Linked DNA regions of Homo sapiens: all the other regions are linked to region 2. The links come from fine-mapping of genetic effects on gene expression. A gene starts in region 2. Each other region holds a variant in brackets. All regions are shown on one strand. Distances are between the middles of the regions. Region 1 holds the start of HMCES (5-hydroxymethylcytosine binding, ES cell specific). Region 2 holds the start of COPG1 (coat protein complex I subunit gamma 1). Region 3 has its middle 18 kb from the start of SNORA7B.

The links.
Region 1: its variant is fine-mapped to the expression of COPG1 in monocytes after interferon gamma (Fairfax 2014, PIP 0.95).
Region 3: its variant is fine-mapped to the expression of COPG1 in atrial appendage (GTEx, PIP 0.99).

What each region holds. Positions count from the first base shown.
Region 1 is chr3:129,274,573-129,282,100 of GRCh38, reverse strand. COPG1 (coat protein complex I subunit gamma 1) reads right to left here. Exons shown (of 24, transcript NM_016128.4): 22 at 7,125-7,263; 23 at 6,809-6,907; 24 at 4,328-4,807. The coding sequence ends at 4,677. HMCES (5-hydroxymethylcytosine binding, ES cell specific) reads right to left here and starts at 3,231. Exons shown (of 7, transcript NM_020187.3): 1 at 3,196-3,231; 2 at 2,186-2,391. The coding sequence starts at 2,368. RefSeq lists an enhancer at 2,077-2,206 and silencers at 2,627-3,016, 3,027-3,376. The variant G/AG (reference allele first, on the strand shown) is at 4,500.
Region 2 is chr3:129,246,041-129,253,568 of GRCh38, reverse strand. COPG1 (coat protein complex I subunit gamma 1) reads right to left here and starts at 3,963. Exons shown (of 24, transcript NM_016128.4): 1 at 3,823-3,963; 2 at 2,835-2,887; 3 at 1,208-1,288; 4 at 875-946; 5 at 614-693. The coding sequence starts at 3,859. RefSeq lists a cis regulatory region at 7,407-7,528.
Region 3 is chr3:129,375,459-129,382,986 of GRCh38, reverse strand. It overlaps the pseudogene RPL32P3. Among named protein-coding and RNA genes, the nearest start is that of SNORA7B, 18 kb to the left of the region's middle. The variant C/T (reference allele first, on the strand shown) is at 3,271.

The sequences.
Region 1 (7,528 bases), 29 kb before region 2:
TTTTCCCCTTCAAGGTTCTCCAGAATATTTTATTTTGATTCCCCTCTCATTTAAAACAAAAAGTTTCAATAGGGAAGTATGCATCCTCTAAAAATGACACAAAAATAACTATGTCATATAAATGGCTTCATTCAACCAAGAACATTATTTGATTTTTTTTTTTTTTTTTTTTTTGAGACTGAGTCTTGCTCTGTCACCCAGGCTGGAGTGCAGTGGCACATTCTCGACTCACTGCAACCTCCACATTTTTTTTTTTTATAGTACAGACAGAGTTTCATCATGTTGGCCAGACTGATCTCAAACTCGTGACCTCAAGAGATCCCACTGCCCCGCCTCAGCCTCCCAAAGTGCTGAGATTACAGGCGTGAGCCACCGTGCCCAGCCATTATTTGTTATCTTTATTTCTTTTTGAGATGGAGTCTCACTCTGTTGCCCAGGCCAGAGTACAGTGGCACAATCTTGGCTCACCCCAACCTTCGCCTCCCGGGTTCAAGCGATTCTCCTGCCTCAGCCTCCCAAGTAGCTGAGATTACAGGCGCCCGCCATCACACCCAGCTAATTTTTGTATTTGCAGTAGAGACGGGGTTTCACCATGTTGGCCAGGCTGGTCTCGAACTCCTGACCTCAGGTGGTCCAGCCGTCTTGGCCTCCCAAAGTGCTAGGATTACAGGTGTGAGCCACCATGCCCAGCCTGTTATCTTTATTTCAAAATGATGTGATTCCCTATAATGCAGAAATGAGTCCTTTTTGACTATCATATTATCACAAAAGTTTAAAGAGTATGTACCAGAGGTATAATCAACTTTATAAAGTGATTTCAGCATTATGAATCAAATACAGTCAAAATTCAGGAAGGAAACAATCACAATTTTTTTTTTTTGAGATGGAGTCTCGCTCTGCCGCCAGGCTGGAGTGCAGTGGTGCAATCTCAGCTCACTGCAACCTCCACCTCCCAGGTTCAAGTGATTCTCCTGCCTCAGCCTCCCAAGTAACTGGGACTACAGGTGCGTGCCACCATACTCAGCTAATTTTTGTATTTTTAGTAGAGATAGGGTTTCACCATGTTGGCCAGGATGGTCTCGATCTCTTGACCTCGTGATCCGCCCGCCTCCACCTCCCAAAGTGCTAGGATTACAGGCGTGGGCCACCGTGCCCAGCCAACAATCACGATTTTTAAAAACATGTCAAGGTCATTTAAAATATTTAAGACATGGAGAAACTATTACTTTCTAGAACGAAGCATTTTTATTACACACACATACAAAGACACACACACTTTCAGGAGATAAGGCAAAAAACTAAAATATGAATGTAAGTGACTGGTAATTCCAACACTACAGGGATAAATACTATAAACACAATGAATGCAATTAAACTTCAGATAACCAAACCAAATACGTGTTTCTAGCCTTAGTAAAAGACAAACACAAAAAGATTGAAAACACAAGCAGAAAGAATAAAACTTTTCAATGCTCAAGAAACATCAGAAGTGTTTTAAATTAACTGATCTTAAGCCTGTCCTAGGCCTAGAGAAGTCTGATTAAGCTGGCCTGGTAAAGGGCATAGAAATATTCTTAAATTTTTTATTTTTTTAAATTTTTTCTTTAGGCAGGGTCTTGATCTGTCACCCAGGTGGGAGTGCAGTGGTACAACCATGGCTCATGAAGCCTCGACCTCCCCAGCTCAAGTGATCTTCCCACCTCATTTTTTTATTTTTTGTAGAGATGGGGTCTCCCTATGTTGCCCAGGCTGGTCTCCAACTCCTAGGCTCAAGTGATCCTCCCACCTCGGCTTCCCAAAGTGCTGGGGTTACAGGCATGAGCCATGGCACCTGGCCTTAAATTTTTTTATTATATTTTTAAGATACTCCAATGACCCTGATGATCAGTGAAAGCTGCTATTTTAAAACACAAAGCTCATATAAATTTGGCATATATTAAGGCTAGTATGCCATGTATAGCAAAGGCATTTAAATTGAGCCTGAAAAATACGTCTTTATCAGTGTTAGAAGCCACTGATAAAACTTCTTTCATGAGGCCAAGAGAGGTTCTCAACTGGAAGTCAGAATATATCAGTAAAGGCTGGTTTTTAATGTCATCCCAAGAGGCTGAGCACACACCAAACCAAATAGGAGATGACCATCACGAGGCTGGGCGAGGGGCTAGCATAGTGCAATGCTGGTTACCTTCTCAAAGTGCAGTCGAGACAGAAGCACTGGGCTGTTGGATTGAGGACTCTTGTTGTAAGAGGGGCAGTACTTATCAGGGTCCCTCCACTCCGGGAGCCGCTGCTGGCCCCGCCGATCCTGGTAGGCGCAAGCTCTCGTGAGAACATCTCTAGGTAAGTGACAGGATGTTCGCCCACACATTCTTCAACACCGCCCCTCGCAACCTTTAAATTACAAAACGTAAGGAAAAGGCTTACGTATCTCAAATATTAGGTCTTATTCCTTGAGTCCCCGCCTTCTCTTTCCGTTCCCACAGGGCCGTGCCCCTCCGTGACCACCGTCTAAAGTCTTCCCCAAAAAGTCCCACAAAGACAAGGATGTGCCCGTTTGCTTCGCTCCCTGAGCCCACTGCCCAGCTCCGTGCAGGGCACTGAGGCAAGTCCCGAGAGGAGCTCTGCAAATGCCTGCCTGAGCGCAGGAAGAGCCGCAGCGGAGGGGGCTTCACAGTCCAGCGAAGCAGGGCAAGCGCAGCTAGCTGGGGTCGCCTCCTCCGGGTGACTTGGTGCCCCCAACTCCCCGTCCTTCCCCCCAGTCCCCGCTGGGGTCAGCGACCCACGCCGGCCAGCAACCGGTCACCTCGAGGGCGGCCACTGGACGGCCCGGGGCCGGGGTGCAGAATCCCCGCCTCCCGCCCGCTAGTCCGCAGCGTCCCCGGGCCCGACCTGCGAACCTGTGGGCCGCGGATCCCGCTCCGGACTCTGCTCCCCGGAGCGGGGGCCGGTGCTCGGGGAGCAGGTGGCCCCCAGCCACCGGCCGCGATCCCTCGCCCCTCCCCGCGTCGCCTCCGCTCCGCTCCGGCCCTCAGACTCCGCCGCCCCGCGTCGCCTCACTTCGGCCCAGGCCGCCCTCTCCGCGTCGCCTCGCGTCCGCTCGGGCCTCTGCTCCCCTCTGTCAGCTCGCGTCGCTTCCTTTCCCCTCCCCTCCCCTCGCCATACCCCGACCGCCCGCGTCGCCTCCCCTCCCCTCACCTCGCCCCGGCAGCGCGCGTCACCTCCCTCGACTCTCCTCACCCCCGCTCCGCTCCGCTTTGGCCACCCGCGTCACCGCCCCTCACGTCAGCCCCGCCTCAGCCCGCGCTCCCGGCGCCAGGCCCCGCCCCCAAGGGCCCTTGGTTCCCGCGGTGCCCTCGGGCCCCGGAGGCGGCGTCTTCTCCCCTCCGGTTTGGGATGAATTTTCTCCCGTTTCCCCAGGAGACAGTGACTGCCTTGGGAGACATATCGATCCCAAGCTTCTCGGGACTCCACTTTCCTCCATATTGGCCGTTCCCTGGCGGGGTTAACCTTCCTCCCCGCCCCCAGCGTGTTTCAGGGCTGGCAGGGAAGGTTCCCGCCGCGCTGAGTCTAGGGCACAGGGTCATGGAAGGCGGGAAACCAGGAAACTCCACTCCTTACTTCACAGTCCTGCCAGCTGCCTCACAGTGCGAGGCAAAAATGGAGGAACACTGAAGAAATGAAAGTCAGAAGAACTTCCAGGAATCGCGCACTTCGCCCTCAAACATTGGTGGGCACTAGAATAAGCCTTTCCTGCCCCAGCCCCTCAGCTGAATCTCTAAGGGTGAGGCCCAGATTTTTAAAACAGCCCTTTCGGGTGTACTTTGGCCTCAAAGTTGGTAAAATAGCCTGGCTTGAGTTTAAAAGCCTGCTCCCCTTGGGACCTAAACCGGAGATTCTTCATCTGCAACCAACAGAGAATGCTCTAGAGGGCTGTTCGCCTATGCTGATTCGCTGAACTGAACAGGGAGCAGAAACCCCAGGGCACACTCCATGTAAGACCAGATGCTGGAACGATCAGACACAGGACCCAAGCCCTTTGGAGCCTCCATTTATCGACTATCAAAGGAGGATGCGTTGTGAAGAAGCACGAACGGGAGGGAGTGTGAACTCTGCCTGTTAGCTGATTCACTCAACCACCCTCTACCGCTCCCACCCCTGGGCTTGGTGCTGGGACAGCGATGACGGGGAGAGGGTCCTGCCTCACAGGACTACAACAGCCAAAGGGCTGTGGGTGCAAGGGGGACAGGGCAGGTGTTCTGCCTCTTTAGGGGAGGCCTTGAAGGGGAAGGTGGAGCCCTGAAGCATGAGTCTGCAGAAGTAGCAATCATTCAATAAATACATGCTGATTTATTACAGGGATAAGATGGTTTCTTGGGGGATAGATTCAAGAGGAGTTGAGAATGTTTTATTCATTTACAATGTCCCTTTCCTGGAAGGGTGGACAGCAAGATTTAGGACAAGCTAAAATCATCCCCTATTTAAAAAAAAAAAAAAAAAAA[G/AG]TCACCAGCAAGTAGTCCCGGGTGGGAGGTGGGAGCAGAATAAAAAAAAATCTGCAATGATTCCTAATTGTTTTTCAATACAGAAGCTTGGGAAGGGGTTTCTGCCAGTTTCATGAGGAAGGCACAACTTCCAGGTAGTGTTGGGGAAGGGTATGAGGTCCTATGCAGGCTGGCCTCTTATCCCACAGATGCCAAGATGATGTCTACTGGCAGCTCCTCCAAACTTCTGGCTGTCACCTGCATTGTCACTGTGTCCAAAAGCAGCAGCCGGGAGCGCACCAGGATGTCATGACCACCCCGGAACACACCTAGAAGGGAAGAGAGAAGTACAGATATATACAGCAGAAGGGACTGTACAGGGCAGGCTAAGGATGGCATTTGCAGCAACCCATGAAGGCAGCTCTGGTGTAGTGAAACGGGCAGGAGAGCTGGGCTGAAATCCCTGAGTGAGGGATTTCACTGTGAAAGTCACTGTCTCTCAGCCAGGCGCGGTGGCTCACGCTTGTAATTCCAGCACTTTGGGAGGCTGAGGTGGGCAGATCATGAGGTCAGGAATTCGAGACCAGCCTGGCCAACACAGTGAAACCCCATCTCTACTAAAAATACGAAAATTAGCTGGGCATGGTGGTGGACGCCTGTAATCCCAGCTACTCGGGAGGCTGAAGCAGGAGAATCGCTTGAACCCGGGAGGCGGAGGTTGCAGCGAGCAGAGATTGTGCCACTGCATGCCAGCCTGGGTGACAGAGCTAGACTCCGTCTCAAAAAAAAAAAAAAAAAAGAAAGTCACTGTCTCTCAGGACTTCAGTATCCTCAACTACAAAGTGGCAGGGATGATAATACCATATTTCAGGCTTCTGCTAAGTTCAAATGAACTGATGGACATAAAAGGCTTATATCTCATGTCACAGAGGCTCTTGCACGTTGACTGAATCTGAGAGCACAAATGAAGGGGACAGCCCCACCACGAGAAAACCACAGGGCAGGTGTCTGCAAGACCCAGGGGACTAGGTTGTTTCAATGTGGCTACAAACTGTCAGCTGTAGGCAGGGTACTGAAGCAGAGCCTCCTTTCAACCCTGTTTATAAACACTCAGCCAAAAAAAATCATCCCATTTCCTTTTGTTAACTGTTTTAGGTATGATAATTGTATTGTCCTTTAAAAAAGGGAAGGGGTCATTCTCTCTTAGAGAAACATACAGATACAGGATTTACATATAAAATGCTATTTCTGGAGTTTGCTAGTAAATAATCTGGGAAGGAGAATGAGTGTGGGTACACTCAGCCAACCCTGTAGAAAATAAGACAAAGGATATGAAGACAATGATCAGAAAAGGAAATACAAATGCCTCAACATTTAAGAAGATACTTAACTTCATTGAAAATACAAAAACTACACTAAGATATCATTGTCCACACAGACTGGAAAAGATCATAAAGTGTGGTAACATATTATGTTGTCCACAGTGTAGGAAGAAAGGTATACAATTCTATGGAAGGCAACTTGGAGTTATTTATCAAGATGAGAAACACAAATCACTTTGAACTGGTGATGCCTTGGAAAATTTATCCTACAGATATTCTCAGTGTACACATGCAAAGTAAACTGTGTGTGTGTGTGTGTGTGTGTGTGTACACGATTATTTACTGTAACATCTGTAATAGCAAGAGATTGAAATCAAACTAAATGTTCATCAGTAGTGGCTGTTCCATAGAATATGTGGTGCATCCACACAATGGAATACTAAGCAACTATAAAAAAAATGAGGATTCAGTTTGGGATGAAAAAAGTTCTGGAGATGGATGGTGGTCATAGTTTTACAATAGTGTGAATGTACTTAATGCCGCTGAACCATACACTTGAAAATGGTCGAAATGGTGAATTTTATGTATATTTTACCACAATTAAAAGAAAAAGAATGAGGAAGCTCTACATATTGACGGGGAAGATCTCTAAGATGCAATGTAAAGTGAAAAGCAAATCGGAGGACAATATATATACCATTTGTACATAAACATTTGAGTTAAAAAAAGGAAATGCGTTCCTATTAGCTTTTATAGCCATAAAATAACCGCAAGGTTATACAAGTATTGTTTGTAATAGTAACACTGGTCGCTTCTCGGAAGGGAATCTGAATGGCTGGCAGCCAAGGTAGGGAGGAAACATTTCGCTGCAGATTATTTTATACTTTGTGAATTTTAAATGCTGTGAATTTTGACTCCCCATATTTACAGTGGAGTCCTTAGCCCAGGATCCAGTGGCATCCAGGCTGTAAGCTATCCAGGCCCTCCCCATCTAGAAATGCCACTTACCAGCCAGGAGCAACGTGTGGGTGTTCTTGTTATCCGGCACTTTGTCTGACCTCTCACAAGGGTGCATTCCCAAGAACTTCACAATATTACCCACAGCCTCTGTAATGAGAAATCCCAATATTGTTAAGCCATCTTATCTGCCCTTTGTGCCACCACCACTCCCCCATGTTCTGAAGGGCTTTTAATGAAGTGGCATTTGACATATGTGCTCCAGACATGGCCCTGGATCCTTGGAGAGAAAAGGGATGAGCACTTCAATAGTAGCCAAAGATCTTGAACAGTAATTAGGCCAGAGATGGCATTCCCAGGATTTTACCTTCAAGTGTCTTGATGGTAGACAAGGTGAACGTTTCCTCCTTCTCAAATTCATCCCCTACCTCATCCCAGGCTGCTTCGAAGTTCAGTTTCATGACCTTTTGAATGTGATCAGCTACAGTAACTTCCAGATCTTCCAGCTGGAGAGATGGAGGTAGAAATCAGGCACCCATCTACACACCTACGGGCCTCTGCTCTGAACTCATCCACACATCCCTTCCTGCAACTCTTTCCACAGGTGCTTGCTCGGCACTGAGGACTGTGCTAGACTCTGGGGACATAGAGCAACTTGACCAGGTACCTATCCTTGAGGTGCCCAAAGGCAAATGGTATCCCTTCAACAGAAAACGCCCTAATCCCAAGTACCAATCTACTAATTCAGCCTAGAGCCGCCTGCTGTGAGAT
Region 2 (7,528 bases):
ATTACACCCTACCTTAATGGCCTGATGCCTGGTTATTTCTCTGTAAATTCTGGGGCTACAGAGGCCATGTCTATCTTTTTTGTTGCTATATCCCCAGAGCTACACACAGGGACTGACAGACAATATTTTCTAACTGAACCTACAAATCAATGTATGACCCCCACAACCTTAAACTGTGGCAGGAAGAAATAAGAGAACTGAGCCCCAGTTCTTAAGGGCAGTGATTACACTTTAGTCACATCTGTCCCTGAATTGCTTAGCTTAAAGCAGACACCAGTCACTTAGTAAGCAGTATACCGCTTGTACTCTCTTGTTTATTTTTCTTGTGTTCTCTCTTTATACTCAAGAAAGTCTTTGGGAAAGTTCTAAGCTGGTTTGGTTGACTAAGAGAAATCAAGAAAAGGAAGCATTTGTGTCCAAGTCAAGGTCAGAGAATTAAAATAGAAACAGCACACCTGGAGGCTGCCATGGGGTGGGCAGTGGTAACAGGGAAGCTGCCACGGGGTGGGCAGCTGGCAATATGCAACCAAGTCTCACTGTCTGGTACACACAAGAAAAAAATGGTCTGTCAATGGAACCCATCAGAAGAGCCACCCACAACCCCATGACTTGCCTGCTGGTGACAATGATGACATCCTCTGCAATGCAAGACATCTCCTTGATGGTCAAGTAGCACATCCGACGGAGTGTGGGCTGGGAGATAGGTGGGAAAAGCCCTATCAGCCCGGGCTCACCAAGGGCCAGAGTTGGGAGAAGATACCTCCTGTCTCCACAAAGGCAGCCCACACTGACTGGTGGGGCCAGCTCTCTTTGGCCCTCCCACCACCTTGTTACAGCTGCCACCTCTCAAGGAAAGCTGGGTTGAGGCACTTACATCATTGGACTGAAAGAGCTTGGTCATGGCAAAGAAGGCCTCGGTCGCTTCCGTGGTCCCCAGGTGCTCCCCCTGTGTTAATCAAGAAAGAAGTCTCAGCTTGGGACAGAGGGTCAGACAGCAGTTCTTTCAGGATCAGCCCACACCAGATCCCCAGACCCTAAAGAGGCTCAAGGGCAACATATGAGACTTGGATGCTGAGGGGACCCAGAGCTGAGCTGTTGTCTACAGCCACACAGAGGCTGTCCAATAGCCTAAGAGTGATCATGATTTGTCCACTCCCCTCCAATCCCCCAGCACCATTCTCCCTACCCGCAAGCTTCACCCTGTTACCTGGTTTATGAGATAAAGAATCTTGGTGAGGATGTGGGCACATTTCCGAGGGTTGATGGGAGTTTCATTAAATACACGGGCCTAAGAAGAAATGACCAAAGATGTTACCTTCTAGCCTAGTTCATTTCCCTTCAAGTATATTCAATGTCTGAGAAGTCTCAGGGTAAACTGACTTGTCTAAACAGGGCTTTCTGGGTATGCAACAAGCTTATTTTCATAAGGAAAGGGTTTGTTTTTCTTTAATCAACTACTAATTATTCTTAGACTCTCGTGTAAATATTAGTTAGGGATGTGCTAACCTATTGACTAGCAGATACTTAGCAACCATCTGCTAACTGGAAACAGAAACAATGAACGACAACAATAAAGAAAGAAGCGGCTGGACGCAGTAGCTCACACCTGTAATCCTAGCACTTTGGGAGGCCGAGGCGGGTGGATCACCTGAGGTCAGTTCGAGACCAGCCTGGCCAACATGGTGAAACCCCGTCTGTACTAAAAATACAAAACTTAGCCAGGCATGGTGGTGGGCACCTGTAATCTCAGCTACTCGGGAGGCCGAGGCAGGAGAATTGCTGGAACCCAGGAGGCGGAGGTTGCAGCAAGCCAAGATCATGCCATTGCACTCCACCCCAGGCTGACACCAGCAAGTCTCCATCTCAAAAAAAAAAAGAGAAGTGGCCGGGCGCGGTGGCTCACGCTTATAATCCCAGCACTTTGGGAGGCCGAGGCGGGAGGATCAAGAGGTCAGGATTCACACCATTCTCCTGCCTGGCCAACATCGTGAAACCTCATCTCTACTAAAAATATAAAAATCAGCCAGGCATAGTGGCGTGCGCCTGTAGTCCCGGCTACTTGGGAGGCTGAGACAGAAAAATTGCTTGAACCCAGGAGGCAGAGGTTGCAGTTGAGCCGAGATCGTGCCACTGCACTCCAGCCTGAGCAACAGAGTGAGACGCCTTCTAAAAAAAAATACATATATATATATATATAAAAAATATATATAATAAAAATAAACAAGTCATGCAAAATCTCTACCTGCATAATGGCCACAGTCTAGCTTAGGTGATAGTTTTAAACCAGTTTCCTTAGCTTTGGAATTAACTTTAAATAGAGAAATTTTTTAAATGTTTAAATAGAGAGGCCAGGCGCGGTGGCTCAAGCCTGTAATCCCAGCACTTTGGGAGGCCGAGGCGGGTGGATCACGAGGTCAGGAGATCAAGACCGTCCTGGCTAACGCGGTGAAACCCCGTCTCTACTAAAAATACAAAAAATTAGCCGGGTGTGGTGGCGGGCGTCTGTAGTCCCAGCTACTTGGGAGGCTGAGGCAGGAGAATGGCGTGAACCTGGAAGGCGGAGCTTGCAGTGAGCCGAGATCACGCCACTGCACTCCAGCCTGAGCGACAGAGCAAGACTCTGTCTCAGAAAAAAAAAAAAAAAAAAAAAAAAAAAGAAGTAAGCATAACTAACTCTCTCCAGAAACAAAGTTTTCCTGTCTTCCAGAAAACTTCCAGGCACAAGTTTTCTCCCGTGTTGCTCTTTAAAACAACACTTTGAATGTGTTGGTATTTCAGTTGCATTGGTGGTGAATATTTATGATGGAAGCTAGAGGGGAGCAAATGTCACTTGCCTCCTGGAGTACCGCACTCTTCTCAAGGTGCTGGAATGGGTTGGAGCCTCCACCTACGGTCAAGGACAATGGAGAAGGTAGGTTGTGACTCTGAACTTCAAAACTCTCCCAGACATAGGTAAAGGGAAGATGTCCCTTCCTAGGAAATCTAGTAAAGTTCAAACTCCTCAGGAATGGCAATCAAGCCTCTACAATCTGTCTAGGGATCCTACTAGTCTCCTGCAAGCAGGTGGGCTCCACTCTACCCCAAACCACTCACAATCTCCCAGCAGCCCTGGTACAGTCCTGTGCTTCTCATGGTGCCATGTCTTGTGTTCATTTATATAACTTGTAATTAACTAAGTCCCTATGTGCCAGGGACCACCATCTCGTTGTAACTAGTTCCTTCATAGCAGATGACACATTTGCAAATAATTACACGTGTGATTATCTGGTTGATGTCTGCCTCCTCCATCGTGGGTGCAACCATTCTAATATTCCTAGCTCAGGCACTGAGTGTCCCACTTGCTCTGTTGCAGTATCCAGGACACCGTACAGTACCTGGCATACAGTAACTGCTCAATATACTTTGCTGAATAAATGAATGATGGGGTCAGAGTTCCCAGTCACAGGACGCTGGCTCCGCAGGTTACACCCCAGTTTGGCCAGCACCAACGTAGCCCCAGCGAATCCCAAGAGGTTGGACGAAGAAAGTAACAAGAGAACATTCGGCATGGTCCCCTCCTTTGACAGATGGGTAAATTGAGGCCTGGGGGGGGGGGTGTTTGTCGCGCCCAAGGTCACCCAGAAAATTGCAGTCCGAGCTTACAAGAGTGAGACAGCCGCGCATGCTCGGGCTCTCCGAGGCCTGCCACTGACTAGCTGTGGACCCTGGCACAAGCCCCTGCCCCTCACTGGGCCTCAGCCTCCGGGTCAGGACAGAGAACCAGAAGGAAAGCTCGGCGGGTGGGGGTCCGGCCTCCCTCAGACCCAGGCCTGGCCCCCTCACCTGACTCCTCATCCTTCTTGTCGAATTTCTTCAACATAGTGGAGTCGGTGGGGCGCAATGCAGCAACGCAATGCTCGACGGGCGCGGCACGGAGTAGCGGTGCCACAGTGGTTCTACAGGGACCACTTCCGGGCCCCGACTGGCCACGTCGCCCAGCGCTCTGCGCAGGCGCATTCCGCGCTCTGCGCCTGCGCTCTTTCCGGTAGCCACAGCCTCGTCTAATGTTAACCTTAGCTCCGCCGGAGCGGGAGTGGGGAAAGCCAGACGGAGGGGCAAGGGCTAGGTGCAGGGGGGTACTGACTAGCATCCCAACTCTGCTCCCTACGCTTCTTTCCGTATACCAAGGGAGGAGGAGGAGCCCCTGCCTCGTTGCGTTGTGGCGTGAGTCTTTGTGGCTTTCGGGTGTGAGGTTGGTGGCACACACTGGCCCGCAGTAAACACCCAATTGATGTGACCGGTCTATGACTGTTATTGCCACCTTCCGAAGGAGCCTTGCCAGCCACTCACTCCTCGCTTTCAGATTCTTTCCCCTGCCTGATTTCCTCCTCAGCTCGAATCGCCATCTAACACTTTATTTTTACTTTCTGGCTTTTATTTGTTTATTTATTTCTCGTTCTGCTGCCCAGGCTGTGGTGCAGTTGTGCGATCCTGGCTCACTGCAGCCTACAGTTCCTGGGCTCAAGCGATCCTCCCACCTCAGCCTCCCGAGTAGAGCTGGGCGCACCACCCCCGACTAATTTTTTAATTTTTGTAGAGACGAGGTCTCACTATGATGTTGCCCAGTCTGGTCTTGAACTCGTGGCCTCAAGCGATCCTCCTTTCTCGACCTTCCAAAGTGCTGGGATTACAGCGGTGAGCCACTGCACCCGGCCACTTTCTTGCTCTTTTGTTTTTTTTTTTGTTATTTGCTTGTTTGTTTGTCTTTTATTCACTGCAGTGGATAATGTTGGCACATAGTAGTTGCTCAGTGAGTTCTCGTTGAATGAATGCGTGCAATTGCATTTTTAATTTATATCTGCCGGGCCCTATCTCGTCTGCTCCTGATGCAAATTGCCTTGTACATTATCAACCTTAAGAGATCTAACTAAACAGCATAGAACTTCTACGTTATTTTGTAAATACTTTGGATATTTATGGAGTGCCAACTAGATGCGCTGCCTACGCGGGGAGGTGGGGGGAAGGGCGTGGGAAGGAACGGAAAGGGGAAAATGACACATCACCCAGGGTTTATCTTCCTGGGGACCTATGCAGGACACCCTGAGGCTAAGGTAAGCACAGTGCATGCCAGTGAGCCAGATTGCATTGGCAATGGCAAAGTCGTGATGGCCAAGCGCTGCGACACGGCCCCAGCTTGCCTGGGGAGGGGAAGCCCGCAGGCCTGTGGGCAGGAGAAGGAGTGGGCTGTGGAGAGGAGAGGCAGGAGGCTGAGGCAGAGGCCCCAGGTGAAAAGGGTGACCGCAAAGCTGGAGGAAGGGAGATGTCAGAGGGGCCAGCCCTTAGGGTCTGGCTTTGCAGAGGCTAGGGCCAAGGACAACAGATCTTGTGACATGCAAAATTGTCAAGAGTCAGAAAGATGTTCAAAATGTCTGATCGGTAACCCCACCCCTAATCAGGAGGAAATTGTTCAAAAGAAGAAAATGAGGCCGGGCGCAGTGTCTCAAGCCTGTAATCCCAGCACTTTGGAAGGCTGAGGCAGGTGGATCACCTGAGGTCAGGAGTTTGAGAGCAGCCTGACCAACATGGTGAAACCCCATCTCTACTAAATACAAAAAAAAAAAAAATTAGCCTGGCGTGGTGGTGCATACCTGTAATCCCAGCTACTCGGGAGGCTGAGGCAGGAGAATCGTTTGAACCTGGGAGGCGGAGGCTGCAGTGAGCTGAGATCACGCCGTTGCACTCCAGCCTGGAGTCTGGGCAACAAAAGCGAAACTGTCTCAAAAAAAAGAAAAAAGAAAATGAAGTTGCCTGCTGCAGCAGTTTGCAGCAAAATAATTGTAAACACCCTAAATGTCTATCAATAAAGGGATGATTAAGGAAGTTATGGTACATCTGAGGACTAAACTGATTTTTATCTTGTCTCAGCTACTCCAGGAGTCTGAGATGGGAGGATTGCTTAAGCCTGGGAGGTCAAGGCTGCAGTGAGCCATGATCATGCCTCTGTACTTCCAGCGTGGGCAACAGAGCAAGACCCTGTCTCAAAAAATACATAGGGGTGGCCAGGCGAGGTGGCTCACGCCTCCAGCACTTGGGAGGCTGAGGAGGGTGAATCACCTGAGGTCAAGAGTTTGAGACCAACCTGACCAACATGGTGAAACCCCGTCTCTACTAAAAATATAAAAATTCACTGGGCATGGTGGCAGATGCCTGTAATCCCAGCTACTCGGGAGGCTGAGGCAGGAGAATTGCTCAGGAGGTGGAGGTTGCCCTGAGCCAAGATCGTGCCATTGCACTCCAGCCTGGGTGACGGGCGAGACTCTGTCTCAAAAAAAAAAAGTGTATATACATATATATATATATACACACACACACACACACACACACACATGCATATATAAATAGGTGTACAATTCAGTGGGTTTTAGTATATTAAAAAAAGTTTATGTACCTGTCCGCACTAATTGGAGAACATTTTCATCATCCCAAAAAGAAAGCTATTCATTAGCAGTCACTTTCCATTTGCCCATCTGCCCAGCCCCTGGCAACCACTAATCTACTTTCTGTCTATAGATTTGCATGTTCTGGATATTTCATATAAACAGAATCATATGCTATGTAGTCTTTTGTGTGTTTTGCTTCTTTCATTTAGCATGTTTTCAAGACATGTTATAGCATGAATCAGTACTTCATTCCTTTTGTAGCTGGATAATATTCCATTTTATGGATTTACTATATTTTGTTTGTTAATCAGTTGATGGACATTTGGCTTGTTTCCAGTCTAGCTCTTGTGAACAAAGCTGTGAATGCTGTGAACATTAATGTACAAGCTTTTGTGCAACCCTATGTTTTAACTTCTCTTGGGTCTATACCTAAGAGTGGTATTACTAGGTCATATGGTAACTATGTTTAACTTTTTGAGAACTGTCTAACTGCTTTTCCAAAGCAGCTGCACCATTTTACATTCCCACCAGCAGTGTATGGGGGTTTCAATTTCTTCATATCCTTGTCAACACTTGTTACTGTCTTTTTGATTATAGCCATGCTAGTGGGTGTGAAGAGGTTTCAATTTGCACTTTCCTGATGGCTACTGATGTTGAGCATCTTTTCATGTGCTTATTGGTCATTTGTACATCTTCTTTGAAAAAATAGCTGTTCATATCCCTTGCTCGTTTTAAAATTATTTTATCTTTTTATTTAGAGTTGTATGAGTTATTTAAGTCTAGACCCCTTCTTCTTTTTTTTTTTTTTTTTAGACAGAGTGTAGCTCTGTCACCCAGGCTGGAGTGCAGTGGTGCAATCTCAGCTCACTGCAACCTCTGCCTCCCAGGTTCAAGCGATTCTCATGCCTCAGCCTCCCTAGTAGCTGGGACTACAGGCGTGTGCCACCAGACTCAGCTAATTTTTGTATTTTTGGTGGAGACGGGGTTTCACCATGTTGGCCAGGCTGGTCTTGAACTCCTGACCTCAAGTGATCCTCCCGCCTCGGCCTCCCAAAGTGTTGGGATTACAGGCATGAGCCACCATGCCAGGCCAATAGAGATTATTTTTA
Region 3 (7,528 bases), 130 kb before region 2:
AGATATTTACCATATACAATTATTTTTTAATTTAAATAAATCAATGAACAGTGTTATTTTTTAAATCTTGTGGCTTTAATACACCCTTTCAATTCTCAGGGAGTGTTTTGGTGATACAGGCTGGGGAGTTAAATAAATGAACGAATAAACTTAGTTGTTATCCATTCAAATATTTGTTGAGCACCAACCTGTCTAAGGCACTGTGCTAGGCAGTGTGCAGTGTTATTAAGATGAGGTACGTGTTTGGTTCCTGGGTGTAAGGAGGTGACAATCTAGAGGGAAGGTTCTTAATTTCATTCTGTGCCCAAAACAACACCTATTCTGGGGATTTGTCATCTTCCTCCCTGCTGGCATTTCTGGGTGGGGCAGGAGAGGGAAGCTCCCTCCATGGGGATGCCTCCTCCCTCCTCTGAATCTTACAGCTTCCTCCATCTCCACTTTCCTACACTGGGGACATCTAAAAATATAATCTTGATCATTGTGTAACAATGTTCAAGTAATGGCTAGCATCTGCACAACCATCCCTGCTTTAAATTCCCCTTTACAACATCTCAGTTAAGCCTTGTGACTGCAGTGGGCATTCTCACTACCCCCATTTCAGAACTGGGAGGACCGGGGCTCTGAGGGAAGCCGCTGGCCTGAGGTCCCAGAGCCCCTTACGTGACACAGCTGGCTCTCAGCCGGCTTCTGAGTCCTGGTCTGGTCCAGTCTCCTCTCTTCATGCCTACAAGTCTTGATCTAACCCAAGGCGGGCATCACGTCCCTCTTTGCCACTCCTTCAATGTCAGCCCAGGAATATGGACAAAATGAGCAGCTCCTTAATTGACTGTGGGGAGATAAAGAGGGAAGGGGTAGGGGAGTGGAGGTTGGAAGCCATTCCTTCCTCCATCTGAGGTTCTAGATGGAAACACAGCTCAGGAACATACCTGGGCCTTTCCTTATGTGCAGAGAGGGGTCAGATGTTTTCAGCCATCTCTCTAGCTTTCATAGACTAGGCCAGGAAAGGACACAACGAATCAAGTCCATGAATCCCGCCATGAAGGTACGTGGGAAGTGCCCACATTGCTGTCAGAATCAGAGACCTTGACCATCTCTCCCACCTTAGTTGGCAGATGCTAAGAAAAGCAGCATTGTGTGCAGCATCATGGCCAGTGACTACACCGATAATAAAAGCCGCCATTTACGGAGTGCCTGTGATGTGCCAGGCTACTAGTCAGGTGCTTCCCATAGAGAACAGCTAATAAGAGTGACAGCCAGAATCTGACATGCTGCTCCTGGGTCAGGCTTTACAGGCATCCTCCCATTTGATCCTCACAGCTTTGTGAGGATGGGGCCTGTCATCACCCTACGTCTATAGAGAAGCAATCTTAGAAAGGGTGTCACCTACCCAGGCCCACAGTGAGGAAGTGGCTAAGATACAAGCCCAGGTCAGCCTAACTCCAGAGACTGCTGCAGTCTATGGCCTCTCCGTGCCACCTGCGTCCCCATCTGCCTTCTTAAGGGACCCCACAAGGACCAAACTCCAGCTCCTGCTGGCTAGATGCTTACCTTCTTTGCTGTTTCAAAATCTAAACCTAGCGCTTCCATGGCCAGTGCACGCCAATCAGTGTCTGTGACACCCAAGCAAGCAATCTGGTAGGCTTCCTTGAACAGTTTCCTATCCAGGTACTGGTACATGGGAGCAGACTGCAGGATTTCATCAAGGGAAAAAAAGACTGTTTTCAGGGCCATGGAAAGAACCAGATGCATACAGAGCCTGCCTCCAGATGCGTGGGACGATTACCCATGCCTGGGGAGCAGCCCTGCAGCCGCCAATCAGCACCCTGCCCAGCCTGCCCAGCCCACCCTGTGTGCTCCGTCCTGCACCTCTCTCATGACTGGGCTACTGTGCTCCACAGCACAAACTCTGCCCATCCTCCCCTCCTTCCCACCTGCAGGCCTGCCTCACCATAGGATGTTACCCTCGTCTGGAATGCCTTTGCCCCTCCCCACTCTCCCTCTGAAAAATACCTATTTGGCTTTCAAGGCCCTGTTGAAATGTCACCTCTTCTGGAGAGTCCTCCTGAGCCCCTCAAGCCCCCACCCCAGGGGAAGGAGTCTCAGCTTCCTCTGCCCTTTGTCCAGATTTCGGGTTGTGATGCAGTTATAGGCCTGTTCCTACAGCAAGGCGGTGCATAGCCCATGGGCAGTGATGGGTTGTACCCGCCACCTTTGGCAGGCCCCCAGTCTATGTTTGCTGACAGAATGAATGAGTTCCTGGGAGGAAGGGGTCTGGGATGGCCTCTTCTTCCAGGGACTGAGTCCAAGAAAGGTAAGTGATTTGCTCCAAGTTACCCTGGAAACCCCTGGAAACAGGTCTCCTGCTCCCTGCCCTGGGGACAGATGCCATCCTACAAGATGGGGTTGCCTTGCTGTGAGTGCCCATGAATAGTTCCTAACGACTTCTCTTTCTTAGGTTTATAAAGGGCTTTTGGCTGTCCCCATAGTCCTGTACAGTAGATATTATTTCTCCCTGGCTACAGCCCAGGAGACCGAGACTCAGAGAGGACAACTGACCTGTCCCAGCAAATAGCTGGCAATAGCCAGAGGTGACTTGACTCCAGGTTCTGTGCCCCTTCCTGCCACGTATGTGGTCATGTGTATATGTGCATATGTGTGTACATGTTACTGGTGGAGGGTCTTGACCACAAGCCATCAGGTTCTTGGTGTTTTCAACAAAGAATTGAACAAAACACACAAAGCAGTGAAGGAATGAAGCAACAAAAGCACAGATTTATTGAAACCAAAGTACACTCCACAGAGTGACAGCAGGCTTGAGGAAGTGGCTCAAGAGCACCAGTTGCAAAATCTTCTAGGGTTTGAGTACCTTCCAGAGGTTTCCCATTGGTTACTTTGTTATACCCTACGTAAATGAAGGAATGGTCCACAACCATTGTGATTGGTTGCAGGAGGGGACCAATCAGAGGTACTTTTTTATTTTTTATCTGCTATGTAGTGCAAAGGGAGTAGCCTCTGATCCTTTTGTTACTTGGGTGTGAAGAGGTGAGGTTTTCCTTTTGATTCAGTTCTAGGAAGTCAGCATGAATCGGCCTTAGGTTCCCTCCCTCCAGACCCTATTCTCCTGCGTCATGCGGGAACAAGAACGAGTCTGAGTTTGGCCGGGACATCTTCAACAAGGAAAGGCCTTGCCCTTGTTTTAGGCCAGCCAGTGTGCTTCGGGGGCCTGCATCTCTCCTGGCTTCCTGGGCAGGAAAGAGCAGTCACCTGGGA[C/T]CTCTGTGCTAATGGTTCCCAAATGTGGATGTGGAAGTGCTGTTTTCTCTGTTTGGGGTCTTTATCTTTGAAATTTCCAGTCCCATCTTTTAGTTTTAGTATTGAAGGCAAGTTTTTTCTCTTTAAGCTTGTGTAAACCAAAAGTAAAACTCTAAGCCCTCTGTGCCTCCATTGAATGAACCCCTCCCCTTGGAGAAGGGGAATTCCAAAAAACCCCTAAAAAACTAGTTCCAACCATCATGGGCATAAGGGGTCAGACTTGCCTCATTTTACCCTCCTCCCTTTAGAGTTTAGACACAATAGACCAGTATTAACAAGAAAACTGGGGTCTCAAGACTGACAAAACAGACTCTGTAGCAATGAGGCAGGATAGTACAGTCTGGAGGCAAGGAACTTAAGGCCAATTCATGCTGAATCAAGGAAAAACACCAAGGTCTGGGGGGAAGCAGGGAATCTGAGGCCAATTTGTGCTGACTTCCCAAAGCTGGATCAAAAGGGAAACACCTGGGTCTGGAGGCAGGGGCCCTAAGGCCAGTTAATGCCAACTTCCTGAAGCTAAACCGAAAGGAAAAACCCAGCTCCCCATGCCTTAGTAGCAAAGGGTCAAAGGTTACTCTTTCTACAACCCTCCCCCTTCCACCATGGCTTAGACAAAAAGGGAGAGTGGCTTGGAGTGGCCACAGGCCAAGCAGGGACCATCCCTTCATCTGCATAGGGTGCCATTCACCTCAGTGTTTACTTAGCCACAGACCAAATCCTTCAACTATATAAGGGGTAACTGATAGGAACCTCAAAAGGAGTGCTTGAAACCCAGAAAACTTTGTAACTGGGCCCTTGAGCTGCTCGGGCCCAGTCCCACCCTGTGGCGTACCTTCTCTCTTTTATAAATCCCTGATTTTGGTACTTCGATCCTGTGTTTCATTCCTTTGTTACTTAGTGCATTTTGTCCAGTTTTTTGTTCAAAACACCAAGAACCTAGACAACTTACACCCAAGGCCCTCCTTCCAGTAACAGCAATAGAACACCGTATTTCAACATGATTCTGATATACCATTGATGGCAGTGGCTGCTCCAGATCACTGTGTTTTGGACAATGAAATGTAGCCAACTGTTCAACTGTAGCTCCCAGCTGCAGCAGGGAGACGTGGCTGGGGTTGCACACTCCATGAAGCCCTTCCAAGTTGGGGTGGGAGCTCCCCAGGTGCCACTGCAGCTGCCCAAACCATTGGGTTGCAGACCTGGGCCTCCCACTCCACAGAGCAGGCAGGAGCCCTGCCCTCCGGGGCAGGGCTGTAGCTGCCCAACTTGTGGCTGCAGGTCTGAGCCTCCCTGTGCTCTTGGGAGGCCAGGAGCAAGCAGGATCCCTGCCCTCCCAGGCACAGCTGTAGCTGCCTAAACCATGGCTGCAGACTCAGGCACCCCTGCACTCTTGAGGGCCAGGAAGCATCCCTTCCCCTTGCAGGCTCAGCAGTGCCTGCTCCCATTGCCTGGCTTCTCCCTGCTGTTGTTGCCCACTCCAATCTTGGAGGAATGTTGGGGCCAAGCTCAGGTGTCATGAAGGCAGCAGGAGGCAGACAGATTCCTGGATGGAAGGGGGCCGGTCCCCAGTGAGGCCCCACCTTCAGGCCAGGGAGGGTCTGAAGGCTGGGAACCAAGGCTGCCAGTCTCATGGACTGGACTGGGAACTTGTGGTGCCTTTTCCAGGCCCACCCAAGTACCAATCAGCATACACTTTTTCCCCTCTGAGGCCCATAAAAACCCCAGGTTCAGCCAGAGCTAAGCAGACTATGGGATGACCAGCTGCAGAGAAGAGCTACCCTTTCTGCTGAGAGCTTCACAGGCCTGCAGAGATGTTGGGACTACCAGCTTCAGAGAGGAGCAACCCACTCCAGGGCTTCCTCTCTGCTAGGAGTTCGGCAGATGTCAGGACGACCAGTAGAGAGTGGAGCTACCCTCTCCAGGGGCTCCAATCTACTGAGAGCTGCAGAGACAATGAGATGAACTGCCTGCAGAGAGGAGCCACCCTCCCAGGGCCTCCTCTCTGCTGAGAGCTGAACACTCCACAGGACCACCTGCCTACAGAGAGGAGCTACCCATTGTGGGTCTCCTTATGCCCATGATGGTTGGAACTAGTTTTTTTTCATGACAGCATCATGAAACAGTAGGCCCTTAAGGAAATCAAAGTATTTTACCCCAAAATATATTTTGTTGACATATTTTGAAATGGGCCTGCAAAGCTTTCTCTTGTGTGGGAAAATTTGCATTCTGTAGAGAATCTCCTTCTCTTACTAGGTCTTTTCTGGAGAGGCTGACACTTTTTAAGGTCAGACAAGAGACATTTGCCATCTATTCTCTCTGAAGTTTGCTACCTGAAGGCTTCATCTACATGAAAAGAACCTGGGCTTGGCTGGGCACTGTGGCTGACACCTGTAGTCCCAGCACTTTGGGAGGCCGAGGTGGGTGGATCATGAGGTCAGGAGATTGACACTATCCTGGCTAACATGGTGAAACCCCATCTCTACTAAAAATATAAAAAATTAGCTGAGCATGGTGGTGGGCACCTGTAGTCCCAGCTACTCAGGAGGCTGAGGCAGGAGAATGGCATGAACCCAGGAGGTGGAGCTTGCAGTGAGCTGAAATCACACCACTGCAGTCCAGCCTGGGCGACACAGTGAGACTCCATCTCAAAAATAAAAATAATAATAATAATGTTATCATTAGGATTATCATTATTTGATTCATATTTTTACTACTCAACAAATGTTGAATGATAAACATATACATTAGGCTGGGAGTGGTGGCTCATGCCTGTAATCCCTGCACTTTGGGAGGCCGAGGCAGGTGGATCATCAGTTCAGGAGATTGAGACCATCCTGGCTAACACGGTGAAACCCCGTCTCTACTAAAAATACAAAAAATTAGCCAGGCGTGGTGGCAGGCGCCTGTAGTCCCAGCTACTCAGGAGGCTGAGGCAGGAGAATGGCATGAACCCTGGAGGCGGAGCTTGCAGTGAGCTAAGATCGCACCACTGCACTCCAGCCTGGGCAACAGAGCGAGACTCCGCCTGTAGTCCCAGCTACTTGGGAGGCTGAGGCAGGAGAATGGCATGAACCCTGGAGGCGGAGCTTGCAGTGAGCTAAGATCGCACCACTGCACTCCAGCCTGGGCAACAGAGCGAGACTCCGCCTGTAGTCCCAGCTACTTGGGAGGCTGAGGCAGGAGAATGGCGTGAACCCAGCAGGTGGAACTTGCAGTGAGCCGAGATTGTGCCACTGCACTCCAGCCTGGGCGACAGAGTGAGACTCCATCTCAAAAAACAAAAACAAAAAGAAACAAACAAACAAAAACCAAGCTGTGACCCAGCCACCTTGGGCACATGTTCTCAGGACCTCCTTAGGCTTTGTCAGGCCATGGCCCTTGACCTTAGCAAAAGAAACCTAAGGTGATGGAGACTTGTGTCAAATACTTTTTGGTTTATAGCCATTTACCCTCTGACAGCAAGACGTGGCTGCTCCCAAGAGCTTATCTTTTCCACTGTGCCATCCTTCTCACCTTCCCCTCCTTTAGCCGGGCAGCAGGCATGGGCTGGGGAACAGGTGACCTAGCTCAGCTACATCCTAGGCTTGTGACTTAGGGTAAATCCATTAACTTTTTTTTTTTTTTTTTTTTAGATGGAGTCTCACTCTGTTGCCGAGGCTGGAGTGCAGTGGCGTGATCTCAGCTCACTGCAACATCCACCTCACAGGTTCAAGCGATTCTTGTGCCTCAGCCTCCCAAGTAGCTGGGATTACAGGCATGCACCACCACGCCAGCTAATTTTTGTATTTTTAGTAGAGACAGCATTTCACTGTGTTGGCCAGGCTGGTCTCAAACTTCTGACGTCAAGTGATCAACCCACCTCGGCCTCCCAATGTGCTGGGATTACAGGTGTGAGCCACCGTGCCCAGCCTAAATCCATTAACTTCTGTTTGGATGCCCTGCCCAGCTCAGGCTACCATCGGCAAACAAGAGAGGTGCTCCAGAATTGAGGAAGCACTGGGCAAAATGCAGGCATGATCGTTAACCTCTGTAAGTGGACCCAGGTTCAGCTACATGAGCCAAACATGAAAGGTGAGGGCTGGTGGGAAGAAAAGCAGGTTTAATTGGAGAGCCGGCAAATGGAGATGTCAAACGAGCGTTCTAAAGGAGCATCTTACCTTTTCAAATTGACCATAGGGGTTTTAAAGCGAAACTTGGCATGGGAGATATGGGAATGGTG